2 linked regions of the Homo sapiens genome follow. The protein of the gene in region 2 interacts with the protein of the main gene of each other region in a biochemical or structural test. Each region holds a gene or a part of one and is shown on either strand. Other genes may lie near its edges.

The links. Proteins that work in one complex are often made in the same cells at the same time.
Region 1: of the proteins of PRKCB (region 2) and ITGB2, one has a biochemical effect on the other in vitro, tested with the Homo sapiens proteins (one study listed by BioGRID).

The regions. Positions count from the first base shown.
Region 1 is NC_000021.9:44,917,890-44,925,196, reverse strand, and holds the start of ITGB2 (integrin beta-2 isoform 1 precursor), read left to right. Parts: upstream 1-4,297; 5' UTR 4,298-4,376; intron 4,377-7,307.
Region 2 is NC_000016.10:24,216,960-24,221,119, forward strand, and holds the end of PRKCB (protein kinase C beta type), read left to right. Parts: 3' UTR 1-3,001; coding exon of another isoform or gene 3,002-3,154; 3' UTR 3,155-3,652; downstream 3,653-4,160. UniProt on the Homo sapiens protein: Calcium-activated, phospholipid- and diacylglycerol (DAG)-dependent serine/threonine-protein kinase involved in various cellular processes such as regulation of the B-cell receptor (BCR) signalosome, oxidative stress-induced apoptosis, androgen receptor-dependent transcription regulation, insulin signaling and endothelial cells proliferation.

The DNA of each region.
Region 1 (7,307 bases), on a different chromosome or scaffold from region 2:
AAAGATCCTTCTGCTCATTTGCAGTCACTTCCTCCTAGCTCCTTTAAAAAAAAAAAAAAGATATAAACTATTTTAAGAATACAGAACAGCATGGAGAGCACTAGTACCAATCCCCAAACAGCTACCTCTCATCTTACCAAATCTTAACATGTTGCCTGACTTGCCCAGAACTTTTTCTTCCTTTTTAGTAAAGAAAACTCTACAATAGAACTTTGAAGCCCTCTGCTTCCATCTCCCAGGCCCGTAGCCTTCTCTGTCTTCAGGGGTAACCACTGTCCTGCTCTAGGGGTGTGTGGGTCTGCAGGGACGAGGTGCATGTTATTCTTCAATGCCTCCTTCTACATTTTGCTTTTCAGAAGAATCTCAGTGTTACGGATCTGTGGGTCACGAGGCTTCAGAGCAGCACTTCAAGGGCTCTTATTCATTACCCCGTAGCGTGAGTGTGGCACCATGGATGTATGTGATCTAGGCTATATTTGGGTCCACTTTTCAGGAGTGCTGTTTTTTTTCTTTCATGCCATCCTTTGGACAGCATCTAATTTCATTCAATTGTGTCCGTGAATTTGGCCTCCTTATGGTCTTTGTGCTTTAGAATATGTGGTTATTTCCCTTGTGGTCTAGTAATTATGTGTTTATCATTGTCCCACTTTGTAACATAATTGTGTTTAAGTTGGAGACGAATGGTTACGTTCCTCAAATTCTCTACCTGCCAAATTTGCATTTCTATTTGATTTTTTCTTGTTTGTTTGTTGTTGTTTTTGTTTTTGAGTAAGAGTTTCCTTCTCATCACCCAGGCTGGAATGCAGTGGCACAATCTCGGCTCACTGCAACCTCTGCCTCCTAGGTTTGAGTGATTCTCCTGCCTCAGCCTCCCAAGTAGCTGGGATTACAGGCATGCGCCACCATGCCCAGCTAATTTTTGTATTTTTAGTAGAGACAGGGTTTTGCCATGTTGGCCAGGCTGGTCTTGAACTCCTAACCTCAGGTGATCCGCTCACATCAGCCTCCCAAAGTGCTGGGATTGCAGGTGTGAGCCACCGCGACTGGCCTGATGTGTTTATTTCTGAGAGAGATCTGTTAGAGATATTTGCTGTTTGGGGCTGTGTCAGTTTGCTTATATATTTGTCAGTCTTTGTTTTATATATTTTGAAGTTCGGCACACAAAGGATTATGGCTGCTGAACTGTCTGTGGATTCTGACTCTCATTGGCTACATCTTCCTTTGTCCATTTGATGCATTTTGCTTTGATTTCTATCTTTTTGATGTTACACGATATCTTCGTTAGTATTTTCTAGCACATACGTGTATTTTCCGTTTCTTTATTTTCAGCCTTCAGTGTTCTCTTTTAACAGTTTATCTGATAGAGAGCCTTTCTTACACTTTTTACTTTTTAATTGTGATAAAATATACATAACATAAATTCACCATTTTAACCATTTGAAGTTATGCATTTCCGTGGCATTAAGGACACTTAGTACTGTGCAACCATCACCACCAACTTCTCCAAAACCATTTCATCTTGCAAAACGGGAACTTTATACCCGCGAAATAATAACTTTACACTTCCTTGAAATGTTTTTTTAATCTTACTACAAAAAATTTCACACATCTACAGAAGTAGAGAGAATAGATTAGTGAAGCCCCATGTCCCCAACAGTGGCTTCAAAAATAATCAACTCACAGGTGATCTTGTTGTATCAACACCTCTCCCGACTCTCCCCCAACCCAACCCACCCCTCTTTATTGGGAAATAAATCTGAAACATTATACTGCACCATCTGCAAATATTTCAACATGTAACTCTAAAAGATGGGGACTTTTTAACATAACCACAAACCATTGTCACACTTAAAACAATTAACAATGATTTTAAAATATGGTCCATGCATTGCAATTGGTTCTATTAAGAGATTAAATCTCTTAATCTAAAGGGTCTCTCTCCCTTCGTCTCTCCTCTTGTACTGTGCTGTTTGCCTTGTGAGGGTTTCTTCAGCCTGGATTTTGCTAATTGCATCCCTACGATGTCATCTAACACACCCTCCTGATGCTTCTTTGTAGATCTAAAAAGTTCGACCTGATTCAGGCTCAATAGTAACATTTGTTCTTTCTATTTTTCTTGATTTCTATTGTTATTTCATCAAGACTAATTCATTAAAGGTGTGTGCATAACGTCTGCTGCGTCCGTGACGTTCGCAGCGAGGGTCATTGCTTACTTTAAGTCATCAGCGGGTGTAGTAGAATGGTATTCTCTTTCTGTCCTTCTTCATTATTTTCTAGGCTAAGTCTGTAATGAGAAGATACCCTTGACAGAGAACATTTCATTGGAACTTGTTTTGTCTCTTTATTTCTAAAACCCAACGCAAGACCTTGTTGATTTAAAACAAGAAAATGTAACCCATTCACAGGTGCTGTGATTCCTGATGGGTTTGAAATTATTCCCAATGTTTTATTGTTTGGTTTTTATTTACCTTTCTTGTTTGTTCTATTTTCCCTTACTTTTTTCTTTTAAAGGATTTGCCTTTTTTTTTTTTTTTTTTTCTCAGTTACCCAGACTGGAGTGCAGTGGTGTAAGCATGGTTCACCGTAGCCTCAACCTCTTGGGCTCAAGCAATTCTCCCACCTCAGCCTCCCAAGTAGCCTGGACCATATCGCGTGCTACCATGCCTGGCGAATTCTTAGAAAATTTTTTTGTAGAGATGAGGGTCTGGGTCTCCAAATGTTGCCTAGGCTGGTCTCGAACTCCTGGGCTCAAGTGATCCTCCCACCTCGGCCTCCCAAAGTGCTGGGATTACAAGTTTGAGCCACCATGCCCAAAATAAAGATTTGTCATATTTTTTTTCAGGTATATACATGCTATTTTTATTCTTAAGGAGACTCTTGAATTGTTAGCATATATACTTAGATATTTTCTATCAAAATGCCCACTGACAAGCATCTATATTCCTCCCCAGATAGGATGGAACGGCAATGTGCTCCCTGGCCCCTCCCAACCCAGTCCTCTAGGCGTTTTGTTTCACAGCGTTAATATTCTTACCACTATTTTTTAAATCAACAGGTTATGACATCATAATTTTTACTTATTTCTTTGCCCAACTTTGTATCATCTGCTCTTGTATTTCTCATGGATTTCTTCATGTCTATTTCTGCAAGACATCTTTAAAACAGAGTTTAGGAGCCGGGAGCCATGGCTCACGCCAGTAATCCCAGCACTTTGGAAGGCAGAGGTGGATGGATCACTTGAAGCCAGGAGTTCAAGACCAGCCTGGTCAACATAGTGAAACCCTGTCTCTACTAAGAATACAAAAATTACCCAGGCGTGGTGGTACATGTGCCTGTAATCCCAGCTACTTGGGAGGCTGAGGCAGGAGAATTGCTTGAACCCGGGAGGCAGAGGTTGCAGTGAGCTGAGATCACGCCACTGCACTCCAGCCTGGGTGACAAAAGCAAAACTCTGTCTCAAAAAAAACTGAAAACATAAAAATAAATAAATAAATAAAACAGAGTTTAGGGTAGTAATGTGTCTGAGTCCTTGCTCTGAAGATGTCTGATTTGGGTTTTTTTTCTAGGTATAATCTCTTTCCCTCCTCTTCCTCCTCCTCCTCCTCTCCCTTCTCTCTCTCTCTGAGCCTGTAGTATTTTCCCTTTCGTGTTCTGTGGTATCCTCCTAATGTCCCTAGTTAACAGGACCTCATCCATCCATCCCTGGGGTGTTCAGTGGCCTCGCAATCCACGTCCCCGCCCAGATCCGCAGCCTTCCTCCTGTGACCTGAGTGTCTCCTCCTCGCTGTCCCTGTTCTGTCCCCTCCCGCCCTCACATGCAGGTGGATGTCAATGCGTGCACGCACCCAGGTTTTCTTGCCTGTTCCCACCTCTTTATCCTCCTTGGCTGGTTCCTCCGCTCCATTCTCTGGCTCAGGAATTTGCTCCCCAGGGTTTTTCATTCCGCTCTGTAGCAGAATGTGCTACTGTTGCTTTCCAGCATCAAACTTTTCACTCCCATGGCCTCTGTGTTCTTCTTCCTAATGGGTGCCCTTTCTGCCTGGCGCTCCTGGAGGCCGGGCCCCTCTCCCAAGTGTGAATCTGATGGAAGCAGGTCCTTCTCGCCGGGACCTCATGTGAGAAATGACATGTCCCACCTGTCTCAAGGGGCCGCTCTCTGACATCAGAGCTGCTGTAGAGCGGAGAGGGGCAGGGGTGAAGGGCCACGGTGGTGCAACCCACCACTTCCTCCAAGGAGGAGCTGAGAGGAACAGGAAGTGTCAGGACTTTACGACCCGCGCCTCCAGCTGAGGTTTCTAGACGTGACCCAGGGCAGACTGGTAGCAAAGCCCCCACGCCCAGCCAGGAGCACCGCCGAGGACTCCAGCACACCGAGGGTGAGTGTGCAGAGGCCCCGCTATGTCCACGGTGATTTTTGGAGGGAAGCACTCTCCTGCCCCAGCCTGGAGTGACCCTGGTGGCCCTGCTTATAGCCCCGGCCCAGGGGTGTCTGGCAGGAAGGGGTCTCCAGACCGTCTGCTCCAGGGTCCCCTTTGAGACCCGGCAAGGGGAAGTGCCTGCCACCAAGAGCAGAGCCACATGGTGTGCTGGGAGCGCTTGCGGCTGAGGATGGGGCCGGCATGGGAGGACAAGGGGCTGTGAGGCCGGCAAGGCCAGGAAGAGGCTGGGCCCACAAGCCCCTAGGGGGACGGCTGGGGGGTCCTGGTGCTCCGGGCTGGGCAGGAGGCAGGTTCCCGGGGCCTCCTCTGTGAACCTGCTGCGCCTGCCTGTGTTAGGCCCTCCTGTCTGCATGCTGCCCCGCCTGGCTACAGCGATTCCATCTCCAGATCGACTCGCAGTGTGTGGTGTGTGATATGGTGTGGTGTGGTTCGTGGTGTGTAGTGTCGTGTGTGTAGTGTGGCATGGTGTGCATGTATGGTGCACGTGTGTGGCATAGCGTAGTGTGGTGTGTGTGTGTGCATGTATGGTGTGCGAGTGTGCGCATGTGATGTGGGGAGTCTGTTGTATGTACATGTATGGTGCACATGTGTAATGTAGTGTGGTGTGGTGTGGCACATGCTCCATGCTCCTCTGGGACCCTCGAGCTTCCCTGCCTCCTCCGTGGGGACCCCTGGGTGACGTCTTGCTGTAGGGGAGCGGGCACCGCTGTGCGATTCTGGTCGAGTTGGTTCAGCTGGTGACCCTGGCCTCCCCACAACAGGCTCCTGGAGGCCATTCCCAAGGTCCTGGTGGGAGGGGGATTGAAGCCACGCCCCTGGGTCCCAGGCCCACCTGGCCCCCTTCCCCCAACACTGCACTCTTGGGGCCAGCCCTCCCCATGCATCCTCCACCCCTGGCACCACCCCTTGCACCACCGTCCCCACACCCAATCCCCCCTCCCCTGGATCTGGGAGCTGGGATTCTGCCCTGCTGTCCCTGTCCATCCGGGGCCCCTCTCCTCTGTCAGTTCCTGGGTGGGGAGAAGGAGGGGTGGCATGGCTGCAATGGGGAAGGGGGGGGATGGCCGGAGAGCTCAGCCTGGGAGCGAGCTGTGGGGGCATAGGGGACACTCGCTGTCACTCGCCTTCCCCGTGACGGTGGCGCAACGCCTGCGGGTTTGGGGGCTGAGGCCGGATTCTGGAGGCTTCACAGAAATGAGCTGCTAGAAGCTCTGGGCTGTCTGCCGTCACCCCAGCGTTTCACCATGAGTGAAGCCCAGCTCACTGCAGAATCCATGCCCAGCTCACTGCAGAATCCCCGGGGGCCAGCACTTTACCAAGAGTGGCCTCCAGACTCCACATTTTAGGAAGGAACTCCTTCCCCATCCAGCTCACAGCAGAATCCCCAGGGTCCCTGCCAGCCTGGCACCCAGCGTGCCCCTCAGTATTCTGGGGATGAGTGGGGGAGTCCCTCTGCTGGGAAGAGGTCCCTGGCTACGTCCCTGCAGGGCGGCGGCTGAGCCCATGCCTCGGCCCCAGGGCCAGTCCCCGCCGGGTGCCATCCTGAGCAGGGCCACAGAACAGATGTCCCACATGGCCAGGACCCCTGTGGCCACCTGACCCCGGGGGGGCTGTGGCCCTCGGTGAAGCAGGTGACCGGGCGGGCTGTGGGGTTTGTCAGCTCCGCAGCGTCACTGCCGCTCAGCGTATGAGTTTCCACTCCCAGCACTCAATGAACAGCTGAGCAACTGCAGGTGCCTCCGAGTGCTGGGAGAGGGGAATGCTCAGCTCCGAGTGCTGGGAGAGGGGACGCTCAGCTCCGAGTGCTGGGAGAGGGGACGCTTAGCCACCCAAGGGCCTTTGCCTCAAGGGAGTAAATAGGGGCATTTCCTGGTGGGCGTGGGCTGGGCTGGAGAAGCAGGGCCTCCTGGCAGGGGCTGGCATGAGATCCAAACACTGCCCAGGCAGCTGGACACTCCTGAGCCTGGAGCTTCTCACCTGAACCACAGGGTGGTAACCCCTGCCCCTCAGGCGGCATCGACGTGACCTGCCTAGTGCACAGTGAGCCTGAGGCAACACGGCCACCACCAGGAGACTCCCTGGGGAAGAGGCCCCCAGACAGCGAGGTGCCCATGAAGGAAGTTCTGCACAGGGGCCGCGGCCATCCAGGAGATGGGAGGGGCCCTATCTGCACCCTGTCTGGAAGGGGCATGGGGTGAGCAGGCTATTTGGTCCCCCGTGACTCAGTTTCCCCATCTGTGAAACAGGAGGGGTGGTCTGGCCAATTGTGCGCACTCCAGCTGTCTCTATAGTCAACCGTGTAACTTGAACTCACTTCCCCAGGGCTCCTGCCAGGCCCAGGTCTGTCCACTCTGGCCCAGGCCGGGCCCCACCAGGTACCAGGGCTGTGGGACATTTGCCTCTGTGGATGGGGCAGCGTGACGCCTGTGGCGATTCCATGGAACAGGTCCTGTGTGGGCCCCCCTTGCTGCACTCGTGTCCTGTGTCAGAGAACCGTGGTCCTGCCTGAGGCCATGTCACCGGAGGCTGGCTCCCGTTCCCGGAGGAGAATGCCAGCTGCCACAGGGGTCAGTGACACAGGCATTTGCCCAGCAGGTACAGGCCAGGTCGCTGGGAAGCCCCAACTCAAGGGGCTCTGCAGTGGGCGCCTAGCAATTATGGAGCTGTGGGTGATACCCACCCCAAGCCGGACCTGGTGCCAGCAATTATCCCTCCCATTCTGCTTGGCACAAACTGGCACTGACACGGGGCATTGATTAGGTGGTTGCATTTGTCGATTCCGAGCCCATGTGTGTGGAGCCCAGGCCCTGAGCAAGCACAGAGGGCCCTGGTGCTGTCCTGAGCTGAGGCCCCTGCCCACCCCGGGCT
Region 2 (4,160 bases):
GGTGGTTGGATCATGATCCCATTTTGCTTGGACATGCTCTCAGGAAGATAAAAACCATGGAGAAACACTAGGCCATTGACAAATGATCTGAGACAACTTTAGAAAACAATGTAGGATGAATGGAAAGAGAAAGAAAGGAAAGAAAGAAGAAAAAGAAAGAAGGAAAGAAAGAAAGAGAAAGGAAGGAAGGAAAGAAGGAAGGAAAAGAAGGAAGGAAGGAAGGAATATAGTGTTATAAATACTGCACTCAACATTTTCCAAATTCTTGCCATTATTTTTCAAAAGTTTAATAGTTTGCAGAAATAGATACTCAAGCCAAAGTCTGTTTTAGAGAAACTTTCCATGGAAAGTCAGAATTTCTACCACTTCCTTTTCTATCCACATTTCCAGTGCAGAAGAAACTGAGAAACAGAGCTTTTTGAAGAGAGGACAGGGCCATAGCAACAAGGACCTTCTTGGGGGATTAATGGGAGGTCAGTAGAATTAATAACCCTCCTTGGATGAGTGCTACTGTTTTCACATGGCTTCAGATGCTATCAACCTCAAAGAAATGATCTCAACAGAGAAGCTTATTCTCTCCCAACTTCTACGGTAAAATCCAGGAGTATTTTCTCTGGGGATCTGCCCACAGGACAAAGTCCATAAAAGCAAGTCCTGTCTGGACCATGTGGTTATCTGAAGCATTAGCCATCACCAGCACAACAAACGGGGCAGGGCTTTCCAAGGTGGGGCTGGTCAGAAGGGAATCTTTGATAAGAGGCCCACAGGCAGGGAAAGCGAAATAGGGTTGATGAGACCAGGGGAGACCTAAAAAAAAGGCAGCTTTGTGTCTTCTAGCTCCAAATATACCTGCCTTTTAGCTCACACACTGTCCTGGAGTTCTCAGACCTTTAGGGGCCCTAACACAGTTCAGTTCATACAGGGGTTCAAAAGGGACAGTGGCCCATTTGGGAGACCTTTAGGATCAATGGGAATCAATTCCATTGTTTTGCCTCAGAGTAAAGTTTCTGGCTCGGGGACAATTATAAGTTGCAAAAAGGATAGAGGCATATCCCAAGTCTTCCTTCATTCCACAAATAATTACAAACAACCTACTGTGTGCCAGGCACTATTCTTAGCACTGGAAATACACTAGTGAAGAAGCAGATGAGGACCCTGTTTATTGTTTCTCTCCAAGAAATTCTCCAAGAATATTGTTTCTTGGAGAGAAATAATAAATAAACAAGACAATTTCTGAAAGCAATAAGTGCAATCAAGATAATTAAAGGATGCTAAAGTGTGACTTGTGGGGATTGGGAGAGAGATGCACAGACAATATTAAAGAGGAGGCATTCGAGCTTTGTTGTGAACACCGGAAGTAACATGCCGAGCGCCTGGGGGATGGAAACTCCTATAGCACCCCACAGGCTAACAGCAAGCAGGACAAGACAAAAAGGGCAGGTGGGACATGGTAGAGATGGACCCTACCCAGGAAACAGCTCCATCAGCATCTTAGCCTGCCCCACTCTAGCCACACATACCCACGTGTGCTCCTGAGTTCAGTGTGCCCACCTCACTCCCACACCCTCACATAGACTTGGCAAGAGTAAGGAGGGAACTCCATAGAGACATTTTACCTATCTCAGGGGAGCAGCCACAAAGAAGCAAGTCTTGTAAAAGGTCTTTTGCAAAGGAGAGTGAACCCAGCAATGAGAGATCCTTAACAGCTAGTGCCCATTAGGGGGCTAAACCTAAAGCCTGGGTGGTGATGGCTCAAACGCTAATGAGTCAGTGAATCCTTACCGACCCCCTGGCCTTTATAATCTGAGGCAACTTTGGCTGCAGCCCGGGAATGTGCAGGGCACTAGGGAATACAAGGCCTTCTTCCCTGGTTGTCTTGTAATAAAACAGCCATGGGGTTGTCCCTCCAGTCCGAGAGACTGTGATGAGGCCTACATAGCAGCGATGTGGTCAGGTAAAAATCAGGAACCCACTGAAATCTTGGGCAAGCCACCCTGCCTGCTTGTGCCTCGGTTCTCTCATATGTCATATATAGGAGGTGAGGACTCCAGCTCCACCTGCCCCAGGTGGGTGTGGTGATGATGAGGAAAGACAAGAGGCTTGCAAGGACCCTGAAGAGGTCGGAGCATCATACAGATTCCTTTATTAGCCCACATTCTGATGTTCCCTGGTGAGACTTGCCCCAAGCAATTGCTAGTAAATGGGGGTTAATTTCTTCTCCACCTCCCTACTGAACAAAAAAAGAAATGCCAGACTTACTAGGAGAATCGAGTTGCTTTGAGTTTCTTTTGTTTTGTTTTGTTTTGTTTTGTTTTAAGGCTCCCCTTACACACCCTCCTTTAAGCTTTGGGTTTTCTCTCTTATAGTTTGTTGACACATGCTAAAAATGTCTTTGGAGAGAACTTCTGCCTGATAAACACCCAATTCTAGACTGTGGGTGGATTTTCGAGCTGACGGTGGTCAATTCCTTTCATTAAGCAGTGATCTGATTTCTCCACATGGCCATTCTGCCTTCTTGGGGGCAGAGTAGATGGGCAGCAGTTCACCTTTTCAGAGAAAGAGGTCTTCTAGCCACCTGGGCTGCTACTGAATGGTTTTCTCCAGGACGCTCTACCTAATGATTATTTCTATAACATTAAGCATGGTAATAAGTAGCTTCCAATTCAATTCATCCTAAAGCCAAAGAAAATACAGCAACACACACACACACACACACACACACACACACACACACACACACACACCACTTTATGGCAATTCTTAACTGACATTCAATGACTTACTTCTTTTCTTAGAAAATTTCCACCACATTTCTATCCCCAAGCCAACATACAATGTGAAATGAAAGCCAGTGCGTGGAGTGCAGCTGCTAAAAATTTTCAGCACAGGGCTCTTTCTGACTCTGCTCATGAGATGGTATCAGCCACCCAATGACTGGCGTATCTTGGTCCTGTGTCTTTCTTCTTACGCTGTGTTAATGTGTTTACTTTCCATTTGGCAGAGAGACAAGAGAGACACCTCCAACTTCGACAAAGAGTTCACCAGACAGCCTGTGGAACTGACCCCCACTGATAAACTCTTCATCATGAACTTGGACCAAAATGAATTTGCTGGCTTCTCTTATACTAACCCAGAGTTTGTCATTAATGTGTAGGTGAATGCAAACTCCATCGTTGAGCCTGGGGTGTAAGACTTCAAGCCAAGCGTATGTATCAATTCTAGTCTTCCAGGATTCACGGTGCACATGCTGGCATTCAACATGTGGAAAGCTTGTCTTAGAGGGCTTTTCTTTGTATGTGTAGCTTGCTAGTTTGTTTTCTACATTTGAAAATGTTTAGTTTAGAATAAGCGCATTATCCAATTATAGAGGTACAATTTTCCAAACTTCCAGAAACTCATCAAATGAACAGACAATGTCAAAACTACTGTGTCTGATACCAAAATGCTTCAGTATTTGTAATTTTTCAAGTCAGAAGCTGATGTTCCTGGTAAAAGTTTTTACAGTTATTCTATAATATCTTCTTTGAATGCTAAGCATGAGCGATATTTTTAAAAATTGTGAGTAAGCTTTGCAGTTACTGTGAACTATTGTCTCTTGGAGGAAGTTTTTTGTTTAAGAATTGATATGATTAAACTGAATTAATATATGCAAGCTCTTGTTTATATGTCTTTTCTTAAATAGACTATGTTACAGAGGTTACAGACTGAAGATCCAGTTTGTAGCCATTAGATAAGCTTAATTTTACTCACATGGAATTTTACTTAATCAAAACCATTGTGAACATGACAAAATAAGATACTTTATATAAATTCCTGGACTTTTAGATTCCCTTGAAAAAAGAAACAAAAGACTAGCAGCTCTGAGCCTGTATTTCCACATGGAAATAATTCTACAGAACTGAGAAATGCTTCTCCTTTAAAAGCAGTGTATGTTCTCATTTTGCCACAGTCTCCACCACCCCCTATTGTCTTATACCCTCCATCCACTTCCCTGGCTGCTATAGCCACTTGAGGTTGAAACCTCTGTCATTCGTGAGTCACAGGTTTGAGGACCTTAATATTTTCTTGTGCCCCTAATCAGGGTATGTGTGCAGCCACCCACTCAATGTGATTCGTGTTTATTAAGCTATGTATCAAGCACAAGATATGTAAGATTTTAT